Linked DNA regions of Homo sapiens: region 1 is linked to region 2. The links come from fine-mapping of genetic effects on gene expression. Tissue or cell type: sun-exposed skin. Region 2 holds a variant in brackets; the other region holds the start of a gene. All regions are shown on one strand. Distances are from middle to middle.

Region 1 (15,285 bases), 20 kb after region 2:
TTAATAAACTTGCGTTTACTTTGCACTGTGGACTCCGCCTGAATTCTTTCTTGCAGGAGATCCAAGAACCCTCTCTTGGGGTCTGGATCAAAACTCCCTTTCCTGTAACAGTTTGCAGGAGAATGTCTTCAAGGCCAGCAAGAAAATACTGCTTCCACTCTGGCTTCCTCTGTCTCTGACAGCTAGACTCAGACTAAAAGGACTCATATGATTAGGTCAGGCCCACTCAGAGAGCCTCCTGTTTGATTAACACAAAGTCATCTGATGAGTAACCTTAAATAGCTCTGCAAAATCCCCTTGGCCATGTAAGTTAACATAATTGTGGCAATAATATCCTACCATATTCACAGGTTCTGCCCACGCTCAAGGGAAGAGAAGTTTATAAGGCATGTATATCGGGGGTGGGAATGTTAGAATTCTGCCTACCACAGTAAAAATAGAGGAAAAAAGAAAGAACATTAAATTCAATGGCATTGTAAGAGAGTAACACAACATAGTTCCAAGAACACTAGAGCTGTAAGATTCAACATCGGAATTAGGTTAAAGGAAAAAATCAGGTAATCCTTCCAATAGATACTGAAGAAGCACTGGTAAAATCAGTAGCTATTCCTGACTTTAAAAACTCAAAGTAAAATGAGAATAGAAGGAAACAACACAATAAAGTATTTTAAAATCAGAAACTAATAACCCATCAATAGAAGAATGGTAAATAAATAACAGTGGATTTATACAATAAAATATTCTGTAACCATAAAAGGAAAACGTACTGACATGAAAATGCAATATACTAAGTAAAATAAGTAGCAGAAGATTATGCATACTATATGATCTAATTAAAAAATTTACAACAAATTAAAAATTTAAAAACAAATAAATATAAGGTTAATATAATTCAGCCACTTGACTGAAAACAAAAAGGAATATGTGGCAGCTATTGACTCAACTGTGGGGGAGGGGCTTTCACTTTTCTGTTATGAATTTCAATAATGTATGCATTTTGTTTAACTCCATTTATAATAGGGGAAATAATAAACCAACAGCAAAACATCATATAAAATAGCAAACCACATTGTGAATTCCCACAAAATTTTAGGAATAAGCAAACTCTTGATTTCTCTCCTTCTCCCCTATAACGTGCCTTCCACATCTCAATAAATATTATCCTCACTCATGCAGTTGCTCAGCCCAGATACCCGGGGGTCACCCTTGCCTTCTCTTTCTTCCTCATCTTCAGCTTCCAATCTATCAGCAGGCTCTACAACTTTTCCTGCAAATATGCACCAAAACCAGCTCTTTCTCTGTCCTCGCCCCCTCTCCAGACCTGAGGCTGCTCCTCCTGCCTGGGATCTACAGATGTCCGTAAGCTTCAAGACCTCTTGCACACTTTGGTATTCTGATTATTCTCTTTTGACCAATCTCTGGTCTCACTGATTTTCTTCAGTTGTTAACAGGCCTAACTCAGCTAGATCCTAATTTGTCAATGTATTTGATTGCGATTCTAATAGTTCTCCAAACTCATGTTCATCAATCTCATGAAATTCCAAATATTTTGAAAGATTTACCTTTTTGCTTCATAATTGATTTTCATTGTATTTCAAGAGTCTGACCAAAGTGACCCAATGCCAATGTGAAGTGAAGAATATTAAATAGTCAAATGATGACTGTTTTAATATTAAAAATTTTGCTTTCATGGGGACTGTAACTGTGGGGGTGCTGGTAAAAAATACTCAGATAAGGAGGTTTCCCCCTACCTAAGAATGCTAAGAATGAATTTAGCATAATGACACAAAATCTTCATGAAGACAAACATACATAATATTACACATTATATACATAATACCATATATATGATACATAAAGTGTTCTTTTATAAGTCAAATAAAAATATAAACAACTCTAAAACATGTGCAATGGCATGAATAGGTAGTTAAAAGAAAAAAACATAAAAGTTATGTGGAAAATATACTTATCCTCACTTTTGGTCATAGCAAAGCAGATAAAAACAAGGAGATATTAGCATTTCCTTGTTAGTTTGGCAAAAATGTTAAAGATTAATAAAACATAGTAACTGTGAGGGTATGGGGAAAACAGTTCACATTATTGGTAAGAATGTAAATTGATTCATTTTAAAAGGCAATTTGTCATGATTTGTGAACATTTTAAATGTGCATATTCTTTGATTCAGCCATTTCTTTTTTAGGAATTTGTGATACAGATATACTCCCATAAAAATGTAAAGATGCATTTAATGTAAGTCTATAAAAATATAAAAATTAGCCAGGCATGTTGGCATGTGCCTGTGGTCCCAGCTACTCCAGAGGCTGAGGTGGGAGGATCACTGGAGCCCGGGAAGTTGAGGCTGCAGTGAGCTGTGATCACACCACTGCACTCCAGCCTGGGTGACAGAGTGAGACCCTGTCTCAAAAAAAAAAAAAAAGAGGACTAAGATAATATCCATCTACAAGTTCAGGAAAGTAGTAAGGAAGCCTGCAGTCTATCAGGGCCTTGGGAAATGGGGAGGAGGGGAGGAAGCACCAATCATGTGAAACTGAAACACAAGGGCAGCATTCATGTGTTCAGGGAATCTAAGCCAATAAATTCACATAAAGTACCAATCAGAGACCACTGAAACCCTAAAAGCTTCACAGAGACAAATGCAGAACACCTCCACAGAAACACGGTCATCACCTAAGAACTCCTACAAGGAAAAAAGCCCCACTGAAGATAAGCTCATAAAATCACAAAAATTGAAACCACACAAGGAAATAATTTACTACAAGGGGAGAGCCGACAGACATTACTTAGGATCCTAATTAATGAAGATGGTAGAAAACTCTAAAGGGAATAAGTTCAAAATTATTTAAAGGAGAAAGGCAAAAATTGTAATGAAAGAACAAATGCTATAAGAAAGAGAACAAGAGGGTTTTGTTGTTGTTGTTTTGTTTTTGAGACGGGGGTGTTTTGCTCTTTTTGCCCAGGCTGGAGTGGAGTGGCGTGATCTTGGCTCACTGCAACCTCCGCCTCCCAGGTTCAAGCAATTCTGCTTCAGCCTCCCAAGTTGCTGGGATTACAGGTGCCTGCCACCACACCTGGCTAATTTTTGGATTCTTAGTAGAGATGGGGTTTCACCACGTTGGCCAGGGTGGTCTTGAATTCCTGACCTCAGGTGATTCACCCACCTCGGCCTCCCAAAGTGCTGGGATTACAGGCATGAGCCACTGTGCCTGGCTGAGAACAGGAGCTTTTACCGAAAAATACAGTTATCAAAATAGGTTTCATGGTAGATGAAGCACAACTGAAGATATTTAGTGATCTAGAAAGCTGATTTGAAGAAATCACCCAGAATTCAGCCCAAAATAGTAAGGGTAAAGAGATGTGGAGGAAAGAATAAGTCTAACATATATGGACTAGGAATTTTAGATTAAAAGAATAGGGAGAGTGAGGAAGAGGCAATATATGGACAGCAGTCCTTGGGAATATATAAAGTCCTTGGATTGAAAAAGAACACTAACTTCTGAGTAGATAAAATTACGTATAACATATTTACATATATTTACATATGTATACTTTACATATACATACATACAAATATACACACATATTTACATGTATATATAAAATATATATTTACATATATGTAAAGTCACACATATATACATATATACATATATGGGCATATTACATATATACATATGTGTGTGTGTATACGTATATGTATATACGTATCACAGTGAAATTTCAAAGCTTCAAAGACAAAGAGAATAATCTGAAGAAGCATCGGAGAGAAAGGACAAATCTATTAAGGAATGACAATAAAACTGATAGCAGATTTCTTTTTAGCAATAGTAGATGATAAAAAACAATAGGATAGCCTGAAAGTGCTGAGAAAAAAATACCCATCTATTTAGAATTCTATGCCCAAATTTCTCTTAAATTCTCATTCAAGACAGGCAAAATAAAGACATTTAAAAATAAACAGGCCAGGCGTGGTGGCTCATGCCCTTACTCCCAGCACTTTGGGAGGCTGAGGCAGGCAGATCACCTGAGGTCAGGAGTTCGAAATCAGCCTGGCCAACATGGTGAAACCCCATCTCTACTAAAAATACAAAAATTAGCTGGGCGTAGTGGCTCACACCTGTAGTCCCAGCTACTCGGGAGGCTGAGGCACTAGAACCACTTGAACCTGGGAGGCGGAGGTTGCAGTAAGCTGAGATCATGCCACTGCACGCCAGCCTGGGTGACAGAGAGAGACTCGGTCTCAAAAAAAGAAAAGAAAAATAAATAAATAAATAAATAAAATAAAAATAAACAAATACTCAGAGAGTTTACTATTTACATGGCCTCACTGAACTAAAGGGCATCTCAGTAAGAAGGAAAGTGAACCTAGAAGGAAGATTGAGATACAAGAAGTAACAGTGAGTGAAGACATTTTCAAACATGTTGGCAAAAGGAAACGAATATTCACTATTCAGTATTCAAGACTTACTTTGGAGGGTTTAATTTCAGGGTTTAAAAAAAGAATGTGGAAGAGAAATATTAGGAAACAGTAACATGAAAGGCACAAACGGAGAAATCAAAGTTAAAACATTCTAAATGTATTCTTTTGCTTAAAGTGATAGTAGCAAAACCAACTAACTTTAGATTGCTGAGTTTGATGTTAAAAGTTAAGGGTGACCACTAAAAGAACAGAGATAGAATATCTAACTTCCAAACTTGCAAAGAAGTAAGAGAAATAAAACTTGATCAGTCCAATATAAGGGAAGAAAGGAGAAAAAAAGGAACAAAGAAAAATCATGGCAAATAGAAAATATTAATTAAAGTGATTAAATATTACCAAAATCAAAGTGGATTAAACGATACTGTTCAAACACAGAAATTCCCAGATTAAATTTAAGAACAAAGCCGACTACGTGCTTTTTAAAAAAGAGACATATTTAGTGACTTTTGTCATGGTGGACTAACCAACTCCTATTGTAAGTAACTAGAAAAATTGATAAAATGTAAGAAAGAACTTGTTTTCAGACAATGGACAACAGGACGACACACACTGGATACAAGACTTGAGGAAAGGAAGGACTTGAGCTTGGCTCGCCCTTGGCCTTGGCTTTCTGCCTGAGGCACTTTCCACTGCAGGGTGGGGTGGGGGCAGCCACGCAGAGCACCCTGGGATGCTGGGATGAGCACACAGGATTAGGGAACTGGGTGGGGGAGGGCAACTGAGGCAGCTGGAAATTGTAGGGCAGAGTAGAGGAGAAGGGAAGCTAGGCAGAGAAAGACTCCCCCCCACCCTCCCCTGTGCAAGGCTGGGACAGACTCTGCAGATAAAGAAAGGAGTAGATATTGAGGATCTCTGAGAAACGAAGGTCCTGTACTTTGGGATAGTTAAAACATTAGTTAAAACGTTTAGTTTTACTTTAAAATAGTTCCTTTGGTTTAATTGGCCAATCATCAGTTTTGAAAGGAATCATCATTTTTGATGATTGGCCAATTTAGTTATAACAAAATGGTTTTAGTTTAAAACATTTAGTTTTAAACCAAATAGATTTGAGGGAATTTGAGTGCAGAAGGTACCTGGGTTCCCTTTTCTTGTTACAGCCCAGGGACTTAGCAATAACCTCAAGGAAAAAAGGCAACAGGTGTTGGTTGATGGGCCTGGCACAGCCTCACAGAGCCCCAACACCCCAGGATGACACAGAGTAGCAGGAGGAACCCAAGGACCCAAAAAGGGCCAGCATATTCGCAGACAGAGAGTTGCATGTATGTGACTGGGTGTGAGCACCTCTTTACATTTCATACCCCAGGTGCCCTGCTTGCCTCACCCAATCCTAGCCCTGTGTGGAGAGGCCCTGAAAATGAGATCTCACATGGAGACAGAAGCCACATGAAGGAGAACTGAGGCATCCCTGCTGAAGTGCCAGCTGCATGAGACCAGTGAGTGACCCCAGCTGACATTATGTGGGGTAGAATTACCCAGCCAAGCCACAGAATCGTGAGAAAGCACAAACCATTGTGTTTGAAGCCACTAGGTTTGGGATGGTTTGTTATGCAGCAATAGCTAACTGAGTCACCTTTTTCACACACCCCCAAACTCGGATGTAACTCAAGAGAAATGAGAGAGAAAGCCTGCATTGAGTATGTTTCTACTACTTGATAGACTAAAGACTTGTACTATCCATTACATTCCAATTATAGAAAAAGAATCAATGTTGCTTTTCTCATATACTTGAGTATGTCTGAAATTCACATCATCTCTATGTACTATGTGAAAGCAAAGCTGACCACTCACTATTTAGGTAGCAGGCATCCTTTGTTTTGTCCTTCCCTGCACCCCTAGCTCCTTCTTTTGCTATCAGTACCCCCATTTTCCCTTTGGCAAACTACCTTTCCTGCATTCTGTGAGCACCCGGAGGAACTTCAGTCAGAGTGCCCTCACATGTGGGGTGGATACGGGCGCAGCACTGGCCAGTTCAACCTTCTCTCCCAGAACCCATGGGCACAAGAGCTAAAAGCCATTTGGCCATGCCATTTCAGTGGCCCAGGGAACTGCCTAGGGTTTCCTGCTACCAAAGATGCCTGCACCTTCTCAGGCTCCTCTCCTGCTCTCTGCATTGGAGTCTGCCAGTACCTTCCAAAAATCTGCCTTTCACTGAATTCAGCCAGAATTGCTTTCTATTGTCTGTCATCAAAGAGCCTTGACTGATACATGATATAGCCTGTTAGGGCAGAAACTCAGTGGTGTGCTTAATATTTTTCAGTGTGGAGGTCACATGGTTGAGCCATGTGTTGGCCTGGACACCTGCAATTCTTGCCAAAAGGATCATTTGAGCGAGGAGCACTGATTTATCTGAACGGAAGTCTGTCAACAACCCTTTAGAGAAAACCATACCTCCTGGTCCAGTGCCTCAGGCCTCGTGCTTCCCTCCCTGCCTCCCCAGCTATCAGCACCTCTCTTGTTCTTTCCAATTCCAGATGTCAGTCTAGCTTGTGTTTTCTTCCCACCAAACCCTCCAGCAGCACCAAGCACAGTGCCAGGCTCATCACAGATTTTAATTATTGATGGATTGATTTGACTGATTTACTTCTGGGTGTCTCTCCCCCGAGACTCCCAGCAATGTCCACATGCCATACAACAGTCCCATTGGGTGCATGTAGAATGGGGCTGTTCCTAAGGGCAAAACACAGTGTGACGACAAGGCCCCAAGGTTGTGGGGCGCATGAGTTGTGGCTAGGAATGCCCTGGACCAACACTGGGAGCCGAGCTCTCAGGTGAGGAGGACCCAGTCATAAATGAGGCCTGGCCCCAGTCCCCACCACATGCAGGCCTATGGGAGAGATCCCTGGGTGCCATGTGTTACCGTTTCTGCAGGACAGTGACAAACTCGGTGAGCCGGTCACGCTCCACCTCGGCAGCCTGCCAGAGGGCCTTGATCTCTGACACTTGTGCCTGCCAGCCTTTTTGTTCTGGGGAGTCCGAGAACCTGGGACCAGGGTGGAGGGCAGAGGGCAGAGGTCATCCGAGGCCTAGAAATAACACTTACCCCTGTGATGGTTGGAGGGACTAGAAGGACATTCAGGGCGAATGTCAGCCAGAGCAAAGGAAGCAAACCCAGTCCCTCTAGGTCCTCCCCTGCTGGCTTCTTTGCCCACCATTCCTGGTCCTGCTGAAGTCCCTAGGCTCCAAAGCTGAACCTACCAGAACTAGAGTTACACTGGTACCTCTGTCCATCCAAGCCCTGTGGGGGCCTGGAATTAGTCTGGTGCTGTGGCAGGTGGCTCTTGGGGACCTGGGGTGCCCTGGGTATCTGTGTGGCCTTTGGGGCCTGGCTGCCCTACCCAGTGTCAGGTGTGCCCAGTCTCTGTGTCCCTGCCAGTCTCTCCCAGCCCTCCTGCATCTTCTGGCTTGGTCCCCAAGCCCAGCCCACTTTCCTGGAGCCTGTGCATTTGGCTTTGTGACTTGTTCAATTTTCTCCAGCCCTAAGCCAACCCATCACTGCTTCCCTCTTACCTGCTGGCTGGAGCCAGGACAGAAGGTAAACTCTGCCCCCCAACTTCAACCCCCCAGAGCCCACATGTGAGTTCCAAGCTGCTCTCCGCTGTGCCCCCACTTTTCCCAGTGAGACCCTGAGCTTACTTTTCTAGCAGTACAGGGCATAGGGAAGGCTGCAGAGCTGGGCAGTGTACTGAAAACTGGGCTGGGGCATGTGATCCTGAGGGCTGACTTCTCGGTGGTCTTGGGCAGGTCTCTTCCTCTCTCTTGGCCCCAGTTCCCCCACTAAACATTGAGAGGGGTGGTTTAGATGGGCTCCGAGAACTGCAGACCCCTCTGTGACTCCTAAATATGCTCTAAGGCCTTGCTACTACAAGTGGTCTCTGAATCGGTGGCTCTGGCATCTCCTAGCAGCTTGTTAGAAATGCAGAATCCCAGGCTTTACCCCAGACCTGCTGAATCAGAACCCACACTTGACCTGGCTGATCAGCAGGGGCTCTGTGTGTGCACTGCAGTTTGGAAAGCCCCATTCATTTCCCCAGTTCTAGAATGTGGGAAGAGGAGGAGCAGGAGCAAAGGGCCGATTCTTCACTCTGCCCTCCTCCCAGGCACCCCACCAGAGTCACCTGAAGGGAATGGGTTCAAACCATGCCAGCCCGAATAGACATACTCTCTGGGATCACTCTGCCCTGTGAATTCCTGTCCTGTCACCTGTGGGAGGGGACTGTAAGCTCCATGAGGGTAGGGCCCACACATGGTCGAGTTTAGTAAGTATTTGTGTGTTGTGGAAGAAACAAGCCTGACAACCAGCAGTCTGGGCAGCCAAGGCACAGAGCAGCTCCTGTATTTCTGTGTGGCACAGAGGTCACAGCCACACAGGCCTGGAAGGGGCTCGAAGGGGTCATCTTGTCCATCTTCCTGCTCTCTTTACTGTGACTAAAACCTCAGAGAGGCAGAGCCTCCCCAATCTCCCTGTGCTGTGACAAGACCTCCCACCCTAAGGAGCGTGGCACATGCCTTGTGGCTCAGTGTCAGCCCACTCTCCCCAAGTGCCTTTATGACCCCAGCCTGATGGGTGGGGCAGCTTTGGCCCACAGACCCTATGCTGCCAAGTGTCAGCAGCATGCTGTCCCCCACTTTTCGGGGATAGCAGCCCAGAGAAGGACCAGTTTGCCTGGAGCCACAGAGATGAGGGACTGGGGCCACTTGGAGGCTTTGCCTGGAACCTGAGCTGACCTGCCTGAGGGGTCAGGGTGGGGAGTGTTGACAGCAGGAGCATGGCTCCAGTGGACAGTGGGCAGGGCTCGGGACAGGGCTTAGAGGCAGGACAACGCTGTCCTTTGTCTATGGGCTGGCAGTAGGAACAAAGGGCCCATTTACACCCTCTGGCTTGATTCTGTCAACAAAGAGGGGGCCCAAGGTCTGAGGGGATATCAGTGGGAACCCATATCATGTGAAATTCTCCCCTTAGAGGCTGATTCTCAATGAGCAAGAGAAGATGAGGGAAGGTGCTAGAAGCCAGGCCCAGGAAGGTTCCTCAGGTTAATTCTCACGTAGCAGGTAGGAACCCTAGCCTGGGAGTCAGAGGCCAAGATTCTAGTTCTGAAGCTGCTTACTCTATCATCTTGGACAGGACTTCCCTGATCCTCCCTGTCTTTATGTAACCTTGGAAGAGTCCCTGGACTTTGCCTGGCCTCAGTTTCCCCTCCTTTTAATGGGATGGCAATACTGGTTGAGCAATCAAGAATGGGAAAAAACTGTGAGAGTCCGGGGGTCGGGGGTCCATACCTAGGTGAGGTCCTGTGGGGACTGGGCAGGGAAGGCCTCGTGAGAGCAGATTCCACCAGTGTGTGGCCCAGGCTGGTCACAGAGCTGTGTAAAGGCGGAAGGGGCCCATCAGCCTGGGAAGGCAGACCAGGCCCTACTGGGCCTCACCTCTGCATGTGAGGTGGAGCAGTGGCCAGCAGGGGTCCAGGAAACCCTTGCAGCAGTCCTGTGGATTTGCTGCCCTTCTTTCCAGAACTCTTGTTTGCTCAAAATGAGACAGAACAGGAGACACCAGAGCCTTGAACAACCCAACACGGGTCTGTTTGAAGGCCCCAGGGGCAGAAAACTTTTGAGGCCAGCTCAGAAAGGCTCTTACAGAGAGCTGCAACCAGCATGCTCTTGAAGTGATAAAATCTGGGCCTAACCGGCTCATTTCTGCAGACGCAGAGCTAATGTCATAGGAGAGGCCCACGTATTGGAAGAACAACAGCATAGTCATCTTAAAATTGCACCTGTGGCTTCCCATCAGAGGTAGCAAGAAACAACCTTTCTTCCGAATAATTAATGTTCACTTTCCAACCCCTCCCTCCCATTGTTTTCTTACCGAGAAGATCCAAGCCTGCCAACATGATCGCCTGCTGAGGCCGGGGACTTGGTCAGGCCTGGGTCCTCCAGGAACTGGGTATAGGCAGGGCTGACCTCGCGGCCACTGGACCCCTCACCCACTCCTTTATTCCGAAGATACTGTAGGAACAGATGTGGGTTCCATCCTCAGGGCTTTGGCTCAGAGGCCTAGAGAAGGCAGGAGGGGATCTTGGCTTGATTTCGGGGCTTTCAGAGGATATGAAAGAGGCTTCTTTTCAGGAGTGAAAAGCGAGGCCTGTTTGGTGAAGGCACTACTTGCATGATAATGACATCTAATAATGCCTCTCTTCAGAAAGAAAGCTACATGGTGTGAGGACGGTGACTGGGCCAGGAAGCTGTTCTACATTCAGGTTCCAGAGGGAGGTGCACGGCCCTGCATGCGGGGCAGGTCAGAGACTGACGTCTCTGAGTGGGTCCGCTTCTCCAGGCGGCCCCACCCACATGTGGTTGAACACCAGGTGTGACTTGAGGCCAGCTGCCTTCCTCAGCTGGAACACCTGGACCTTCCAGACACCTGCAGCCAGAGAGGCTGGCAGGGACTCAGTGAGGGCAGGCAGCCTTGGGTGGAGGCTAAGCCTGCCAGGCCCCCACCCCTCCCTCAACCCCTTCCTCTTCTGGATACCTGCTGGGGCTGGACTGGACAGGAACATTAGAGGACCCCCAGCAGGAGGTCAGGCCACCAGAGTGGACAACCGGTGTAAGCCCCTAACAACCTGGCTTGTCCCCCAGCCCCACCCATTTTGAGAAAACTCGAAACGTGTGCCGACTTAAGTCTGGTGGGTAATGCTTGGCCCCCATTCAGCTGGTGACCTCGGAGGTAGGAACAGTCTTCTCCTGTGTGCCTGGAGAAAGGACAGTGGTGAGGTGAAGATGCTGGAATCTTCCCCTTCAGACTTCCCTCCCCAGTGAGCCAGGATGGGGAGCAGGGTGAGTCCCCATTCACTGCCGTATGTGCTCTGTTCCCAGACTTCCTTGTGCCCCCAGGCTCCCCTTCAGCCTCACAGCACTATGTCACAGCCAGTCCTGGGGCCCCAGGCTACCCTGGCCTGTGGGAATAGAGGCTACAGGACAAACCAGGCTGGTCAGCCAATGCCAGACTGAGGCAGGGCCGAGGGGCTCTTGGGCTCTCACCTCTGAACAAACCACGGATCCCCAGAAACAAAGAGCAGGGCTGCTTTGCAACATGCCTTTGGCTGAGCCAGTCAATTTCCCAGTGGGCCAGAGGCTGCAAGGCTCCTTTGTCACTGGGAGACCTGCATGCCTGTCAAGAAATTCTCCCCAAGGACACCACCCAGCCCCACCACCACCCCAGGGAGGTGAAGGTGCCTGACTCCTAGCAGCCCCAAGCTGTGCCCTCAAGGCACCTGCCAAGACAAAATATCTTTACAAGCTCATGCCTTAGACAAGCATTTATTGAGCATCTACTGTGTGCTTGCTCCAGTGCCAGGCACTGAGGCACCACGGTCTGTGCTCCCTTACAGAGAGTGCAGGGGAGAAAACAGGAAAATGACTACACAGCGTGAGAGAAGTTTGGTTTGGGGATGCATAGGGAGTTAGGAGAGTGCCTAGGAGGGGAACACAACACAGAACAGGGGTCCTGGGGCTTCCTGGAGGAGCTCCTGACTAGGTAAGACCTAAAGGCTGAGGGGCAGCCGGCCAGACCGAGGCCGTGGGGGAGGAGGGGAGGGAGTGTGCTTCACGCTGCGCGTAGCCCTGGAGTGCGGAGCAAGCAGGAGCTGAATGGTGCCTGGGTAGCAGAGTGTAGGGAAAGGGGAGGGGTGAAGAGAAGATGCAGGAGGGGTGGCAGCAAGAGTTAGTCACATGGTGCCTAGAAGCTGAATGAAGTGTGGCTTTCCTTCTCTCATCCTGCTGCTGGAGCTACTGCCACCATCTTGAATCCTGAGGATAAGGCCACAGCTGGGGATGGGAGAGGGTAAACTGGAAGGTGCCTGGGTCCTTGAGAACCAGGTGAGGTCGAGGGTGACAGTAAGCCATGAACAGATTTTAAGTAGAGCAAGGACACAATCAGGTTTGTGTGCAGAATGGGTTGGGGAGCCAGATAGAAGCAGGTGGCCAAAGTGGAGCCAGGAAGGATGAAGTCTGGCCTGAGCTAAGGCAAGTGGAAAGAAGTGGAAGGAGCTGGATGGACTTGCCCGGCTTGAAAATGGGTTTGGGCGCTGCCAGTGCCCTACTCACGTGCACATTGAGTTGTCCGATCTCCATCTCCAGCTGTCGCACTTTGGCCTCCCGCTCAGCTACCATGGCCTGCAGCTGGGCGACTAGGCTGTTGCTCCGCTGAGCCTCGCTGTTCAGTTGCTGGTCCAGGTGGTGCTGGGACACTCGCGTTTTCTCCTCCTGCAGACTCAGGCTGCCTAGGATCTCCTGTAGCTGCTTCAGCTGGTCCTGGGGGGCCAGGCAGGAGGGCAGGTGGAGTCAGTCATGGCCCTTTGGGCCGGGGAGGACAAGAACAGACTGCCTCCCTCACCCCAAAGCAGGCTGCAGGAACCTAACAGTGGGATCCTGTTCCCTCGAGAGGCAGGAACACCTTCCTTGCCTGCCATCAGGGGATGTTGAATCAGGCAGGTGGGGACCATGTTCTTTTCCTGTCCTCAACTTCCTTCTCTGAGTTTGGGGCCAAGAAGATCCAAGGGGCTCTCAGACAACAGAAAGTAGATCAGATGGTGACTCCTCACCCGGTGGGGGAGATATTTAGCTAAAAGAAAAGCCTGATCCTGCTTGGCTGGGAGACTGCCCTTGGAGGCAGTACCTGGACCCCTGCCAGGGATCCATTAGCACCTGACTGAAGCCTCATCCCAAGGAAAAGCCCTCAAGGAGACTCCTGGGCAAAGGCTTCCTGCCTAGGGCCAACAGAAAGGACAATGTCAGTGATTTGGAACAGGTGGGGGCTGTTGTCTTCACCTCAGAGTGGAGGAAACTGAGGCCCAGAGAGTCCAAGGGCATATTGCTGGTGAATAGCATGACTGGGACTAGTTTGCAGCTCTCATCATGCCACTTTCAATGACAAAGAATGGTGACATGCAGGGACCTCAGAGGACATCCAGCCCTGCGACTTATTTTTAAAACTGGCTGCTGAGCCTCAGAGGGGATGCGACTGGCCTATGGTCACACAGTGAGATACTGACAGAGGCAGGCCTAGATTTCTGGTCTTCTGTGCCCCGCTCACCACCCTATCATGTAAAGTGATCATGAACTAAGGTAGGTGCCTGAGCCAGCACCCCCCAAACACCCCAGCCAAGCCAGACATGATCACCCGCCCCGGGCCTGCAGGCACAACTTGGAATCTGACACCAAACTTTGGTGCCTCGGGTCCCACAGAGAAAAGTCCAAGCTGTAGGGTTAGGAAAGCAGTATGGCCTTACTAATCAAGGAAGTTTTTGTTTTTGTTGTTGTTGTTGTTTTATACATAAGTTGTAGGGTACATGTGCACAACGTGCAGGTTTGATACATAGGTATACATATGCCATGTTGGTTTGCTGCACCCATCAACTCATCATTTACATTAGGTATTTCTCCTAATGCTATCCCTCCCCCAGCCCCCCACCCACCGACAGGCCCTGGTGTGTGATGTTCCCCGCCCTGTGTCCAAGTGATCTCATTGTTCAATTCCCACCTATGAGTGAGAACATGCGGTGTTTGGTTTTCTGTCCTTGTGATAGTTTGCTGAGAATGATGGTTTCCAGCTTCATCCATATCCCTGCAAAGGACATGAACTCATCCTTTTTTATGGCTGCATATTATTCCATGGTGTACATGTGCCACATTTTCTTAATCCAGTCTATTACTGATGGACATTTGGGTTGGTTCCAAGTCTTTGCTATTGTGGATAGTGCCGCAGTAAACATACGTGTGCATGCGTCTTTATAGTAGCATGATTTATAATCCTTTGGGTATATACCCAGTAATGGGATTGCTGGATCAAATGGTATTTCTAGTTCTAGATCCTTGAGGAATCGCCACACTGTCTTCCACAATGGTTGAACTAATTCACAGTCCCACCAACAGTGTAAAAGCATTCCTATTTCTCCACATCCTCTCCAGCACCTGTTGTTTCCTGACTTTTTAATGATTGCCCTTCTAACTGGTGTGAGATGGTATCTCATTGTGGTTTTGATTTGCATTTCTCTGATGGCCAGTGATGATGAGCATTTTTTCAAGTGTCTGTTGGCTGCACAGATGTCTTCTTTTGAGAAGCGTCTGTTCATATCCTTCGCCCACTTTTTGATGGGGTTGTTTTTTTCTTGTAAATTTGTTTGAGTTCTTTGTAGATTCTGGATATTAGCCCTTTGTCAGATGGGTAGATTGCAAAAATTTTATCCCATTCTTTAGGTTGCCTGTTCACTCTGATGGTAGTTTCTTTTGCCATGCAGAAGCTCTTTAGTTTAATTAGATCCCATTTGTCTATTTTGGCTTTTGCTGCCATTGCTTTTGGTGTTTTAGTCATGAAGTCCTTGCCCATGCCTATGTCCTGAATGGTATTTCCTAGCTTTTCTTCTAGGGTTTTTATGGTCTTAGGTCTAACATTTAAATCTTTAATCCATCTTGAATTAATTTTTGTATAAGGTGTAAGGAAGGGATCCAGTTTCAGCTTTCTACATATGGCTAGCCAGTTTTCCCAGCACCACTTATTAAATAGGGAATCCTTCCCCCATTTCTTGTTTTTGTCAGGTTTGTCAAAGATCAGATGGTTGTAGATGTGTGGTGTTATTTCTGAGGCCTCTGTTCTGTTCCATTGGTCTATATATCTGTTTTGGTACCAGTACCATGCTGTTTTGGTTACTGTAGCCTTGTAGTATAGTTTGAAGTCAGGTACTATGATCCCTCCAGCTTTGTTCTTTTTGCTTAGGATTGTCTTGGCAATGTGGGCT
Region 2 (15,285 bases):
CGGGTGCTGGGTGGGGGGAGGGTGTCCAGTAGCATAGGCTCAGACAGGGACACCTGGGCCTCTCTTCAGCCTGCCTCCCCTGGCTCCTAGAGAGCCTGTGCCTCTCTCTCACTGCTACCCAGGACTTCCCTCTTCCAGGAAGACTCCTGGTGGTCCCACCAGCCTCTCCAGGCTTGTAAGCCCTGCCCCCACCACAGACACACACAGTCACAACATGCAAACACTTTCATGCTTGGGCTCCAGGGACTCCAGCTCCTACCTTTACATATGACCTCCTAAGGGCTATCCCAGGGCAGACTTGTCTCGCCCCATGACCTGGTCCTTTTCATTATGCCGTGAGTCCTGGCTGGCCATGCATCAGTGCCTGAGGGAGGGCTGACTTGCCTGATGGGACTGGAACTGGCATGGGACATGTGGCTGAGAGGGATCCCCATAAGTCAGCCCTGTCCCATAGGGAGTGTCCTGGATGGAGGGGTGCTAGCAGGGTCACTTGGCAAGGCTTGTGGGTACTTGGAATGGCTGGTATCCTCTCGGTGGCAGAGTGGAGGCAGACAGGAAGACAGGTGTGTTCCTAACCAACTGGGAGTCCTGGTAGGACAGGGCCCTCATTCTGGAAGGGAGCATCCAAGGCCTCAGCCCTGGATACCTGAGGGGAGGGGCATCCTGAAGGTGCCCCTGAGATTAAGAACCTCTGACAGTGCCCCTTCGGTTGAGGCCAAGTCTCGGGCAGCTGTATGTGTCTGTGCTATCTAGGGGGACCTGTTCACCTGTGTGCTTGTGGGGAGGCTCTCGGGGGTAGAAGGAGCTTTGTGGCTGTGATCAGTCACAGGACAGCTCCTGGAGCCCCTGCTGATCCTATGACCCCAGCTTCAGGCTCAGTTGAGGAGGCAGGAGGGAGGTGCTGCTCCCCACCCATCAGGGCCCAGGAAGGGGAGAGACTGCACTTAGGCAGGGAGCTGCCTCCCGAGCACATAGACACGCTGGCCTGGAGAACAGCAAGGAGACGCCCAACCTACACACTCCACACAGGACACAGAGGCCCGTGTCTGTGGTCCCCGACCCTGAGAAGCATGAATGGTGACTACTGCACAGTGTGGGTGCTGGGTTAGAGCTGTGGTGGGTAATGGGCACTAGAGAGGCCAGCATCAGGAAGGGAAGGATACCTGAGCCAGACTTCAGGGTTAAGGAGGGCTTCCTCAGGGAGGGGTAGTCAAAGGTTGTTAGGAGTAAGTTAATCATAGTAGCCAGGATGTACATGGATTAACTTTTTAATGTCACCACAGCCCATAGGGAAGATGTTGCCACTGTACGCAGTTGGGAGAAGAAGGACCTGGCACATGAGGAAGCCAAGTAGTTGGATCAGCCCTGTAAGCTCCTGGCACTGACTGCCCTGCAGGGGCGACAACCCCGTGCACCCACACTGGGGCCCTCACGAGGCTCCAAGAAAATGGCTCAAGGGAGCAGACAGGGTGGTTTGACCCCAGAGTTAAGAACACAGGTTCAGCCAATTTACTTGACCCTGAGCTGGTGTGACCCACTTCTTAGGGCCTCAGATCCTCAGTTGTAAAATGGGCATACCGCTGGCCCTGGCCCTCACTGGGGTGGCAGGGGGCATCCGGTGATTCACTCCATGACAAGAGCCTTGCTCATAAACAGAGGCTATTAGAGAGCCACAGACACCCTGACCCCCAGAGGCCCAGAAAGGCTGGATTCACACTCAGAAGTGAGGCCTTCCCTGGGTGACCCACACACAGCAGGGTCTGCAGGGAGTGTGGTGTGCGGAAATGGCAAGAGGGGTGGAGGGCTAGGGAAGTCCCATGGATCTGTGGTTGGACAGCCTGAGGCCAGCTCCACTGTGTCTGAGGGGGGTGGCAGGGGAGGGCACCTGGCAAGGCCAGCCCACGTGAGGGACAGGAAGCTGACTGAGCTAAGACCAGCACTTGGCCCTGGGGCCAGCTTCCCAAATGCCACAAGGGCCACTAGGAAAGATATGGTGGGGAGTGGGGACAATTCTCTCAAATCTGAGTCCCTTTTCAATTTTCAGACTTTTTTTGTTTGGTTGTTGCTCAAAGTAAAAATGCGAGGAAAGTATCCTGTGTGTTTGCATGTACGTGTGCAACTGTGTTTTGTATCAGTTGTGTGTGGGTCTGTGTGTACGTTTTGTGTTGTAGGTTGTTCATGGCATGTGTTTGCTGTGTATGTGTATCCTGTGTATTGTGTGTGCACATGTATCGTACATACGTGTGTATATGTGTGTTGTGTGTGTGCAAGGCTCACAGATATAGGAGAGTCAGTGTACGTAAAGGCACACCTGTGGGGAGAAGGTGGGCAGGCCGACTTCTTTGTGCTCAGGGCTGGCTGTGGGCTGGCTGGGGGTGGGGAGGAGAAGCTTGTTCTGGCCCCTGGGTGTGGGGGTGCAGAGGAGCACACCCACTGGAGGTCACCCTGCCCTGGGCTCCTGGGAGCAGGGGAGGGGCCCAGTGACAATGTAGTGTGTTTAAGCCTGAGCCAGGCTGCAACCTTGCCCAGCTCAGCTGTGGTGCCCCAGAGGCCCCTGTGGGGACAGTGGCCAAACTACGTCCACAGCTCAGCCAGGTCTCACCTGTCAGTGCTGGAACCTGAGCACCAAGACCTGCAGCACCTGCCTGGGGTGTGGCAGGGAGAGCCCTCACTTGAGGCAACTTCACCACTTAACTCTTTACTTGCCCCTGCCCCTCAACCCGCCAGGGCACCTGCACCCTCCCCTCCAACTACCTCCTCGTGGATCTGGCCAGGGCCCTTGGTGTCTTATCCAGCACACCTGTTGCCCACCTGCCTGAGGGACAGGGAGGTCATCCTCAGGGTGCCCAGGACAGATGGTGCTACCCAGGAGAGGCACTGGTACTAACCTGGACAGACCAGCTGCCTGGCTGTGCACCTGGCCCACCTAAGTTAGGTTTCTCAGGGTCCCTATCTTTGACCCCTTTGATGACCTCCTTCCCTTGAAAATCCTTCTCCCAGGCTCTCCCCACCTTCCCTTTACTCCTCCTTGCTCCTTTGCCTCAGGGAGATGTGAAGCCCCCTCTCTACCCAGATCTGATCAAGGAGGTTGGGAACTTGGGAACTGCCACAGGGATGGGGTGGGGATGGTGGGGGAAGCCCTGTGGTGCTGCAGCCCGGTCCTGCATCCTTCCCCACCCAGCTCCATCATGGCGTTTCCCACACCTCTGATTGGACTGGAAACTCCCTGAAAGGAGGAAGCAAGTCAGATTCACCTCTAGGTCCCTCCCAGGCCTGGAGAGGCTGGCATGCTGTTGGCACTCACTGACTGCCTGGTGGCCGACTGGCTGGATGGAATGGTGACCTGTGACCAGTCTGTCTCTCTCCTCAGCTGATCTGAGAGTTCCTGGAGGCCAGGGACTGTGTTTGCCTCACCTCGGCACCTCTGTGCCTGGGGCAGAGGAACTGCTCAACAAGTTCTGGTTGAACAAATGGAGGGAACACTAAGAGCGAATAATTATTAAGCGCTTACTGTGTGCGAGCAGCTGCTGTAAGCAATGGACACTTTATCTCAGTGAACCCTGCAGAGGGTTCCAATGAGGGAATGGAGCAGACCTGATCTAACCAAGCTAGGGGTGGGGAGGTGCCCGGTGGTAGGTGCCAGCAGACATGACAGGCACTCCCGCACATGGCACCACAGCAATGCTGTCAAGGTTGCCCGTGGAATCTGAAAGCTGAAACACTCATCTTTATATACAGAGTTGGCCAAAGCAAGACACCAGCAAATCAGTTTACCCAAAAATGTGCAAACAAGATTTCCTGTGCCTGCCTGTCTGCAGTTTTTCTTTCCCCTCTCTCTTATATAACTCTTGTTGAAATCAGTCTATAGATACATGTTCCTTGTACAGAAATAAACAGAGAGCTAATAATTAGTGAAACGTCTTTGGGTTATTCTTTGACATACATATTAATAACAGCCCCCTGAGGGAGGATTCTATTATTGTCTGCATTTTATAGATGAGAATGTGGAGGATCAGAGAGGTTAAATAACTTGCCCAAGGCCACACAGCTGGTAAGTGGGGAGAGAAGTATGCCCCAGGCAGCCCCACCTGTCCAGACTCCATGACCTAATGCTCCTTCCTTTCTCAGGCATAGCCCAGGAAGGGCAGCAGAACCACCCTGAAGTGGCTGGAGTGTGGGTCACACCATCTCTGCACTTCCCTGAGGTGATCTTGAGGAAGGATGGCTGATCCTATGCCTGCTTCTCACTCCCTGGGACTGCACTGAGGCCAGAGCCTGTACCCCTCATACTCAGATCACCCTCTGGAGCTCCTCAGGGCCTGCAGGAGAAGGTGCTGACTCCTCTGTGTTCAGACTCTACATCCAGCCCACCCCTCGCTGTCACACACTGTCCCCTCCAAGCACAGACCCTCTCTCTCCTGGCTCTCTGCCTGGCCGTTTTCCTTCACAAGGAACCAGAGAAAAACTCTTCCTTCCCAGAGACCCTTAGGACCCCACCAGAATCATCAGTTCATCCCGGTGGCCTTTGCTCTAACTTGCTGTGGGATCTCTAGATCCGTGTGACCCCATGCAGGGTCAGGGGCTCCCTGAGGAGTGGGGGCCAGCTAGGGTCCCTCCATAGCCCCATCCCCAAGGAAGGGGCTGAGAAGACAGGGTCCCAGGAGCCGCAGTGGCTTTTCCAAGGAAGGAGCTGACAAGATGCTCGCAGGAGCCCCAGTGGCTTTTCCTGGGGAAGGGGGTGTTTTCACAGTATGTGCACCTGCATTTGTGCATCACTGCACAAGCAACACACAAGTGGCTATGTCTTCACGTGTGGGAATGTGTGTCCACATCCACATGTGTGTGCTCATCTGCACCTGTGTGTCCATGAGTGTGCACACATGGAGGTGCCTGTGTGCACGTACAGTTGCATGCTCCTGAATTGAGGTATGTGTGTGCATCTGCATCTTTGTGTGGGGCTGTGGGTGCACCTGTGTGGCCAGGGTGTCGGAGTTGGGGTGTGTGGCTATGAGTGACCCTCCTTGGGGCCACTCCTTCCTGTAGCTATAAGTGCATAGTTACAGCTGAGAAAGGGCAACACTGACAGTCATAGAGGCCTGCGGATCTTAGGGTGCCCCTGCAGCATCCCTCCAAGTTCACCATGGCGAGGGAGGTGCACTGTACCTTTGACTGGAGCCACTACCTCAAAACCCTTCTGCCTGAAGCTCCAGCTGAGCCCCACCTCGGCCCTCTGCCACCAGCATCCATCAGCAGTCTTGGTGAGCAAACAAAGATGCCTCTTGGAGCTGCTGCCTAGGGGTGGGGTTGTTCAGTGGTGGGTGGGTGCGCCTACCCTGGGTAATCTCTGAACGGCAAGACCCTGGTTTTGGGGTCAGGCAGACTGCAGTTAAATATTAGCTCAGCTTCTTTCTGTGAACCTCAGTTTCTTCATCTGTCAAATAAGACAACAAACCCCTGGGTCATTAGAGGACTGAATGGGGTCAGGTTGCCACAGTAGATGCTCACTCACTGGGAGCTGCAGTGATTATGAAAATACTTATTATTATTACAAGTCCAAGGGTCTGCACCTGAGGAAGTGTCCTGAGGAGTGGGCTGACAAACTGGTTGAGAGCATAGTGCCCCAAGTCTGTGTAGGGTGTGGACGGCTACAGATGGAGCCGGGATGGGGGTGAGGGGATAGGGCAGGGCTGAGTGGCATGGGGGATATGCCCACTTAGGGTAACCAAGGGCTCTTCTGTGTGTGAAGCCATGGGGACATCCAGGGCTAGTACCTAGGATGAGGGCGATGAACACCTGCCCGAGGGACTGCATCTGTCCATTCACAGCCGCCTTGCCATCCCAGAGCTCTCGCCTCTGCCAGTGGGCTGCTGGGCCTCCCTGCTGCTGTAACCCAGCCAGCCCAGGGTCTCCTGCAGTGTCCCACCAGGGCTTCTCTTCTGCCTTCCTGGCCTGAGACATTGGTTTTGGTCATCCTTAAGGAGCCTCTTCTGGTAGAAGTGGTTGAGCTGGCTGCCCTGGGCTGGCTTCCCGGAGCAGATGGAGTCCTCAGACAGAGTCTTATCCTCTCAAGACCTGAGGCTGCCCACCCGGCCAGGCCGACACTGGGCTGTCATCCTATTGCTTGCCTGTCTTCTGCTGCCGCAGGGCCTGCAGGAAGACACTTTTCACCTGGCCCAGGATCTCATGGTACATCCGGAAGTCCTCCTCCTTTCCCCGCAGGGCACTGCCCAGGGCAGCCTTTAGCATTTCATTCTCCTCCACCTGGATGGCCAGCCTGGACCACAGGAGACAGTGCTCAGTGTGGCTGGAGCTGCACACAGGTGTGCGTGGGTGACAGAGGGCCCTGGGAATGTGGTTGCCAGCATGGCTGCTCTTCAGGCTCAGGCTTCCCTCTGACCCATCCCCTCCTCTCACTGACTCTTGTGGGTACCATGGATTCCTCTCTATGGGCCTGGCTCCCTGCAATGTAAGCTACCTCAAGGCCCCTTACAAATTGAGTTCCAATTTGTAGAGGTTCCCGTCTTTCCCTTCCCATGGCTGCGTGGGGTCTTAAAAGGTTTAACGTAGTGAGAAACTGGTTCAGTGATCCATGCTTGATAAAATTTCTCTTGGACTATGGGTCATTGGGGTTTGGGCCGGGCCCTCTGTCCTCTGAAGGCCAGTCCCTGAATTGCAGGCCTAGAACCCAGGACCAAACAGGACAAGCCTTCTGGGCAAATGAGTCAAAAGTGCAAGGGGAGGGACACAGTCCCTCTGCCCATGGAGGCACCTCTGCTCAGACAACCCTACCCTTTCAGGAAGGCGGGGCAGGGGAGCACCTGGTTGTCAGCTCTTCCATTTGGGATTCCACGGGCACATCGGAGAGCTGGGCAAAGGATGGGTCCTTCTTCTCGCTCCCGGTTGGGTTGTGCCTGTTGTTAGAGGTGGGCAGACCTGTGGGGCAGCAGCAACCACTTTCTGTGAGGAGGCCACAGCCCTGTGCTAGCACCCTGCTTCTCCTCCCGCCATTGCCCACTGCCTGCTCTTCCACATGGTGAAACGCTACACCGCCTTCGGGGTGCAGGGCAACTCTGAGCTCTGCCTCCCTCCGAAGCCCTCCCTGATGCCTCCTCTGCATGCCTCTGCCCCTGGCTTTGGCCTCTGCTACAGCCCTGACTCTGCTCGCTTTGTACCAGGGTGGTTCCTCACCACCCTGTCTCCATCTTTATACTTTACAAGTTTCTGGTAATTTGTTTTCTTTTTTTTTTCTTTTTTTTTTTTTTGAGACAGAGTCTTGCTCTGTCACCCAGACTGGAGTGCAGTAGCGTGATCTCAGCTCACAGCAATCTGCGCCTCCAGGGTTCAAGCGATTCTTGTGCCTCCCGAGTAGCTGGGACAACAGGTGCCTGTCACCATGCCCAGCTAATTATTGTATTTTTTGCAGAGACAGGGTTTTATCATGTTGGCTAGGCCTCCCAAAGTGCCAGGATTACAGGCGTAAACCACCATGCCCAGCCTGGTAATTTGTTTTCAAAAAGAGAAACCAGCTGAGCCTGAGGTCTGGCCTGCAGGCTGAGCCCGAGTCTAGACTGTCACTGTACCTGATGCCCTCATACCAGTGGTCCCCATCCAGGCCATCAGCTTCATACTAGGAAGCAGGGGATCCAGGGTCCTGGAGTTGAAGGGTACAGAATGTTCACAAAAAGGAGACAAAGTGGCCCACGGTGGGGTGGTCCCAGAACTTTGGGAGGCCAAGTGGGGGCAGATTGCTTGAGGTCAGGAGTTCAAGACCAGTCTGGCCAACACGGTGAAACCCTGTCTCTACTAAAAATACATAAAAATTAGCCAGGCATGGAGGCATGCACCTCAAGACTAGTCTTGTGTAAACCTGTCTCATTGCTGGGGAGGCAGCAGAGTGGCTCTGCCCTCTACAGGGGCTGGACTGAGTGTTCTTCAGGGCCTTTCCTGGCTCCAGGGGACACTGCTAAGCTGCCCTTGGCTTATTCCACGCATTGAGCACCTCCACATCCCCAACTAGAGCTGCCCTGGATGGGAAACTGCTTGTTCAGCCTGATGGAATTTTCTAAGCCCTGTGACACAGGGAATCAAAAAGAGCCTCAGCCGGGTGCGGTGGCTCATGCCTATAATCCCAGCACTTTGGGAGGTCTAGGGGGGTGGATAATTTGAGGTCAGGAGTTCAAGACCAGCCCGGCCAACATGGTAAAACACCATCATTACTAAAAATACATAAATTAGCAGGGTGTGGTGGCGAACCCCTGTAATCCTAGCTACTTGGGAGGCTGAGGCAGGGGAATTGCTTGAACCAGGGAGGTGGAGGTTGCAGTGAGCTGAGATCGCACCGCTGCATTCCAGCCTGAGGGACAGAGTGAGACTCTGTCTCCAAAAAAAAAAAAAAAAAAAAGACAAAGCTCAACTGGTGGTGGCGAACTTGGGCAAAATCACAGCATCAGAAAACCTCGGGACTGAAAAGGCCCTCAGAGGTGGTGTGACCCACAGTAAATTACTTGGTATCAGAAGACCTGGCTTTCGCCCTCTGCTGAGAGGCCTCAGGCAAACTATCAGCCTCTCTGAGCTGGTTTCCTTAGCTGAAAAAA[A/AG]GGATAATAGTTTATGCCTCTAGAGCTTTGGCAGCCTCAGTGAATTCTATTTGGCTCTCAAGGCCCTGTGTGATTGGACCACTCCAGCCTCCCTGCCTCCTCCCTGTTCCTCCAAGCATCCAGCTAAGCTTCCAAGCACCGACACTTGTCTTTCCCTCAGGGATCGGCAGGCCACATCCCCTCCCAGTTCCTCCATCTCTGCTCAGATGTCTAGCTCCCCTACTGGAGTGAGACTGCCATGGGGGACTGAATTATAAATCTAGCCTCCTCATTTTACGGATGGGCCAGGGGGAGGCGGGTAAGTGGTGCTCTGCTCACCAGAGGGGCAGGATTTTGCCCATGTTAAAAGCCAGTAGGCAGCAGAGGCCACCTGGACACTTTCCCTCAGGCAGCTGCCCTCACTGTCCAGCAGGGAACAAAGTGACTTGCCTGCTGTGGCTTAGCTCTCCCTGGTTGGAAGTCCTGCTGCCCTACAGGAGGTAAGCCCCAGCCTGGAGAAGCCACACTCCTAGGGAACATATTCCTGAGAGTCCAAGAGGGTCAGCAAGGCTAAGCCCCAGAGACCCTTCCTTCCCGGCCTGGATTCTCAGAAGCTCCTGGCCCTGCTGGTGGGAGAAGAGAAAGCAAGTGGCCCCAACACCCTCTTTATGCCCTACTTCTGGCACACCCTTCTGAAACGTTCTGACCTCATCTGGGCTGAGGACTGAGACCAAGGGTCTGACCATCCTTGGCTGGGGAGGGGTTGGGGGGCTACTGGGGTGTTGAAAGAGGGTGCAGTGGGGGCAGCAGCACCTCCAGCATTCCAGCCTGGAGGGGGCTGGGATGGGTGGGATGGGAGGTCAGACAGAGGCAGGCCCAGCCCCTCCACATTGGAGACCCTTCCTCCCTGGGAGTCAGCCATCCCAGAAATGGCTTCTGGCTCTGGCATCCTCCAGCTCGCCCCAGCCCCACAGGATGCTGATGCTGCTCATCTGAATACTGCACCTTGAGAACCACTGTGTTCGAGCGATAGACTTTTCAGTTAAGGATAGCATTTCCCAGCTTCCCTCTGCACCTGGCTATGCCCAACTGTCTGGCTGATGGGATGAGAGCAGAAGTGACATATGCAACCGTAAAAGGTAAGGAGAAGTTTGTCTCCTTCCCTTCTCCCCTTCCTGCTGCTGATGGGAAAGCTCAGGCAGTCATTGTAGACCAGAAGATGGAAGCTGCATGTTGAGAACAGTGGAGCCACAAAACAGAGGGAGCTTGGGTCCCCAAACCTCTGGTGAGGCTACTTCCTGCTTATATCAACTTGACCATTGCAGGAGGCACAAAGGGACTCCTCCCCTGCTTCAGCCACTGTTGCTTGGGCTTCCCCAGCAGACCAGCTGTGCCCCATGACCACTTTGAATGAAGTCAGCTTAGGATAGAGGGTTGAGGGCTAGGGTGGCTGGGGGCATTCAGCACTGCCACCTCATGCTGAGGGCTTACAGGTGGCCAGGCCAGGGCCACACGAGGCAATGGAGCTCTGGGGCTCCTGCTTCTGACTGAGAGGCCTGGGGAAAAGAACACCCCACAGTGGAGGCAGGCAGAGCTCCACCCTGATGGAAGCTCTGCTTCCCACATGCTCACTGATGGGCTGAACAGTGCAGCTGCCTGGCTCCTCTGTTAGCAGCAACACTGCCTCCACCCCCTGCACTGAGACTACTGCCCTGGCCCCTACCTGTTTTGGTCCTGGGAGCTGCTCTCTGGGAGGCTGATGCCTTCCCTGGCTCCAGGCGTATCTTCTCCAGATGTTGCTCCAGCACCACGGTGCGGTGTCGCTCCTCCTGCAGCTTCCTCTCTGACTCCAGGAGCTTGCTGTTGCTCTCCTCCACCCTGGTGATTAGAGAGGAGGGGATGCTACATGCCCTGGCAGGCAGGGGCAGGCCCTACCCCACTTGCTCAGGCCCTTAGAGAGATGGGCACATCTTACATTGGTAGTGATGGGACCTCTTCATTTTCATTGCAGTAACACAGGAACATGCATTTAAACACCATATGGTTCTCTCCAAGGTTAAAATTTAAAAATTATCAGCCCACTCCCAGCCCCATCATTCCCAATTCCTGCTCTCTAAAAGCAATCACTTATAACACTTCTAGCTGTTTCTTTTAATATTTACTGCCATATTTCTACAGATGCTTATGTTGCTATTTTTAGGTTTATATAAGGTTTAAATATAATCTTTTGACTTCCTGTCATGCAAAATAAGAATTTAGTTTTATTTTAGTACTCTCCTCCTACGAAACAGAATCACCTGTATACGTTTTTGGATGAATTGATATTAGGTATCAGTTTTCTATCACAGCTATAACAAATTACCATAAATTTAGCAGCTTAAAACAACACAAATCTATTATCTCACAGTTCTGTAAGTCAGAGGCCTGGCAAGCTCAGTGGGTTTCTCTGCTTCTGGTTTCACAAGCCGAAATCAAGGGGTTGGCTGACCTGGGCTCTTATCTGGAGGTTCCGGGGGAAAATCCACTTTCAGGCCCATTCAGAGTGTTGACAGAATCCAGTTCCAGGTAGTTGAAGGACTGAGGTCCCTGTTCCCTGCAGGCTGCTGGTCAATTTCACCTTCTAGGAGCCACCTTGCCCCCTCCATCTTTAAAGCCAGCTAGATACCCTTAACACACTTTGAATCTCACTACCCTCTCTGACTTCCTCCACAGCAACTCTCTGAATAATCCCAGACGGAGATATTTCTCTGCTTTTAAGGGCTCAAAAGATTACATTGAGCCCACCAGATAATCCAGGATAATCTTTCCATTTTAGGGTCCATAACAATAATCATATCTGCAAAATCTCTTTTTCATGTAACATAAAGCACTCACAGGCATAACAGCAGGGAGCAAAGGGCATAGACACCAAAAGCCTGTCTACGTTAGGACAATTAGTTAGAGCCATGACGCACAGTGTCATATGTCCTTTCTCATTTAATTGTTCGCTTTTCTTGGAGTTAGTGATTATCTTAAGCTTATTGTTTTGTTTTCTACATGCCTGTCATAAATGTTATTTCACATGAAGCACTTGTTTAATCCCACTGGAGCTTGAGCTTAGGTCCTTCCTGTGGCTAGGTGTGCCATTTCAGACTTCTATGATACTAAAGGTTCATTTAGTGAGAAAGCCAGAACTCCCTGAGATCTAACCCAAGCCAAGAGTTACATGCACACCTGAAAATTAGAGGGGCAGCCTTGAAACTGACAGTGTTGGAGGAAGTGATCTTTCCACCTTGGTGAAGGGTCAAAAGGAACAGAATGACAACAATTTTGAACAGTATACAACTACTAATAAAAAGCTGTATAGTAACACAGTAAACAGCTACTAACACATATTTAAGCATATTCCTTGAGATTTTATTTGCAAAAGCAAAAACCCAAAACAACCTAAAGGCCCATCATCAGGGGACAAACAAGTAAGTGGTAACATATTCATACTATAGAACGTGATAGAATATGATAGAGCTGTGCTGCCCAACACAGTGACTGCGAGGTTCATGTCCACATGTAGCCATTAAAATTAAAGTTCAGGGGCTGGGCCCGGGGTCCCACACCTGTAATCCCAGCACTTTGGGTGGCCGAGGTGGGTGGATCACCTGAGGTCAGAAGTCTGAGACCAGACCAGCCTGGCCAACATGGTGAAACCTCGTCTCTACTAAAAATACAAAAAAAAAAAAAAAAATTAGCTAGGTGTGGTGGCATGCTCCTGTAATCCCGGCTATTTGGGAGGCTGAGGCAGGAGAATCACTTGAACCAGGGAGGTGGAGGTTACAGTGAGCTGAGATTGTGCCATTGTACTCCAGCCTGGGCAACAGGAGCGAAACTCTGTCTCAAAAAAAAAAAAAAAATTAAATTTCAGGCCACGCACGATGGCTCACGCCTGTGCTTTGGGAGGCATAGGTGGGTGGATCACTTGAGTCCAGGAGTTCAAGACCAGTCTAGACAACATGGTAAAACCCCATATCTACAACAAAAAATACAAAAATAAGCCTGGCACGGTGGCGTGTGCTTGTAGTCCCAGTTACTTGGAAGGCTGAGGTAGGAGGACCACTTGAGCCTGGGAGGCAGAGGTTGCAGTGAGCCGAGATCGCACCACTGCACTCTGGCCTGGGCAACAGAGCGAGGCTCTGTTGTAACAAAAAGAAAAAAAAATAAAGTTTATGAAAATTAAATTAAAAATTCATTTCCTCAGTCACACTAGTGACATTTCAAGTTCTTAAACTGTATTGGTCAGTGCAGATACTGAACAACTCCATCATCACAGAAAGTTCCACTGGTCAGTAGTGGAGTGTGTTAGTTATCATGAGAGTGGGTTTCTGATAAAGGATAACTTTGTCCCCACTTCAACTTTCCCCATGCCATTTCCCTTCTGCCTTCCACCACGGGATGCGGCAAGAAGGCCCTTGTCAGACGCTGGCACCTTGATATTGGACTTCCCAGCCACCAGAGCTGTGAGAAATAAATTTCTTTTCTTTATAAATTACTCAGTCTGTGGTATTCTGTTATAGCAACACAAAATGGACTAAGACACATCCTTGGACCCAGCTGGGTAACATACCTGAACTCCAGGACAAGGAGAAAAATCTTATAACAACAGCACAGCTAATACTTTTTTTGAGTGCTTTCCACATACCAACTACTGTGTTAAGGCACTGCATAAGCATTATTATGTTTAATTCTGTAAGTAAACAAGATGTACTAATATTACTTCAAGAAGACACAGAAAATCTAAATTTGAAAAAAGGTTGTCAAAGATCTACCTCCAAAAAAAAAAAAATCAGGTCAAGCCAGGTTCTCAAGAAAGTTCTATCTAACCTCCAAGGAACCAATGATTTTTGCTATTCTGACAATTCCACAATATAGAAGAAATAGATGGCTTCCTATAAGTTTACAAAAAACTTGATTTCCCAGTTAATAATAGGGTAAATGTATTAGTACTGCTGCATAACAAGTTACCACAAATAGTGGCTTGAAACAATAAAAAATTTCCAAAAAACATAAAGAGCTACTACAACTCAACAACAGGACAAACAACCCAATTAAAAAGTAGGCAAAAGACTTGTGTTTCTCCAAAGAAAATATACAAATGTCCAATAAGCACATAAATAGATGCTCAACATCATTAGCCATTAGGGAAATGCAAATCCAAACCACAAAGAGATATCACTTCAAACCTACTAGGATGGCTATTATTGAAAAAAAGGAAAATAAGTGTTGGTGAGGATATAGAAAAATTAGAACCCTTGTACACTGCTGGTGGGACTATAAAGTGGTGCAGCCATTGTGGAAAAGTTTGGTGGCTCCTTAAAAAGCTAACCATAAAATTACCCTATGATCAAACAATTCCACTTCTCAAATTGAAAACGGGGACTCAAACAGGTACTTGTACAGCAATGTTCTTGTAGCATTATTCACAATAGCCAAAAAGGTGGAAACAATCCAAGTGTCCATCAACAGATGAATAGATTGACAAAATGTGGTACATGCACACAATAAAATATTATTCAGTCATAAAAAGGAATGAAGTTCTGACATATGCTACCATACGGATGAACCTTGGAAACACTGTGCCAAGTAAAATAAGCCAGACACGAAAGGGTAAATATTGCATGACTCCACTTATACAAAATATCTAGAATAGGCAAATTCATAGAAAAGAGGTTACTGGCTGGGCATGGTGGCTCATGCATGTAATCCCGACACTTTGGGAGGCTGAAGCGGGTGGATCACCAGAGGTCAGGAGTTCAAGACCAGCCTGGCCAACATGGCGAAACCCCATCTCTACTAAAAATACAAAAATTAGCTGGGCATGGTGGTGGGTGCTTGTAGTCCCAACTATTTGGGAGGCTGAGACAGAAGAATTGCTTGAATCCGGGAGGCAGAGGTTGCAGTGAGCCGAGATCATGCCATTGCACTCAAGACTCGGCAACAAGCGAGAATCCATCTCAAAAAAAAAAAAAATAAGTAAAGAGGTTACTAGATGCTGGGCTTAGTGGGTGGCGTATGAGGAGCTATTGCTTAATAGTAATAGAGTTTCTGTTTGTGGTTATGAAAAAGTTTGGAAATAGAGATAACGGTTGCACAGTATTGTTAATGTAATCAGTGCCACTGAATTGTATACTTTTAATGGTTAAAATGACAAATGTTTGGTGTATATAGCTTACCACAATTAAAACATACATATACCACACAAATTTATTATTTCACAGTTTCTGTAGGTTAGAAGTCCAAGGTTGGCCTAGCTAATTTGTCAGTGTCTTACATGGCTGAAGTCAAGGTGTCAGAAGGAGTTGCTATCTCATCTGATGCATGGGATCCTTTTCCAAGCTCACTCAGGTTGTTAGCAGAAGTTAGTCCCCTGTAGTTCTAGGACTGTGGTCTCCATTTTCTTGCTGGCTAATGACTTGGTTGGTTGTCAGCTCCTAGATTTTTCTCCCTATTCTGGAGTTCAGGTATGTTACCCAGCTGGGTCTAACGATGTGTCTTCGTCCATTTTGTGTTGTTATTGCATAATACCACAACCATCCACCGCCATGTTGTTCTCTCCAAAGCACAGTGGTTTTGTCAGAGGCGTTTGAACAAGAGCAACTCCATCTTAAATAGGAGCTGGGTGAAATAAGGCTGAAACCAACTGCTGCATTCCCAGATGGTTAAGGCATTCTAAGTCACAGGA

What was found. PIP is the estimated chance that this variant, and not a neighbour inherited with it, causes the effect. A credible set is the group of variants that fine-mapping cannot tell apart.
Region 1: it holds the start of CCDC13-AS1, and the variant in region 2 is the best candidate, but not a certain one, in a credible set for the expression of CCDC13-AS1 in sun-exposed skin (GTEx, PIP 0.81).

What each region holds. Positions count from the first base shown.
Region 1 is chr3:42,723,112-42,738,396 of GRCh38, forward strand. CCDC13-AS1 (CCDC13 antisense RNA 1) reads left to right here and starts at 9,464. Exons shown (of 4, transcript NR_046732.1): 1 at 9,464-9,547. It overlaps CCDC13 (coiled-coil domain containing 13), which reads right to left. Exons shown (of 16, transcript NM_144719.4): 10 at 12,596-12,802; 11 at 10,359-10,498; 12 at 9,776-9,859; 13 at 7,356-7,478. RefSeq lists enhancers at 7,334-7,833, 9,186-9,480, 10,010-10,695, 10,696-11,379, 12,752-13,437 and a silencer at 9,186-9,480.
Region 2 is chr3:42,702,866-42,718,150 of GRCh38, forward strand. CCDC13 (coiled-coil domain containing 13) reads right to left here. Exons shown (of 16, transcript NM_144719.4): 14 at 10,297-10,451; 15 at 6,819-6,933; 16 at 2,891-6,274. The coding sequence ends at 6,115. HHATL-AS1 (HHATL antisense RNA 1) reads left to right here. Exons shown (of 3, transcript NR_146957.1): 2 at 1,284-1,367; 3 at 3,182-3,900. Among named protein-coding and RNA genes, the nearest start is that of HHATL, 7.7 kb to the left of the region's middle. The variant A/AG (reference allele first, on the strand shown) is at 8,595.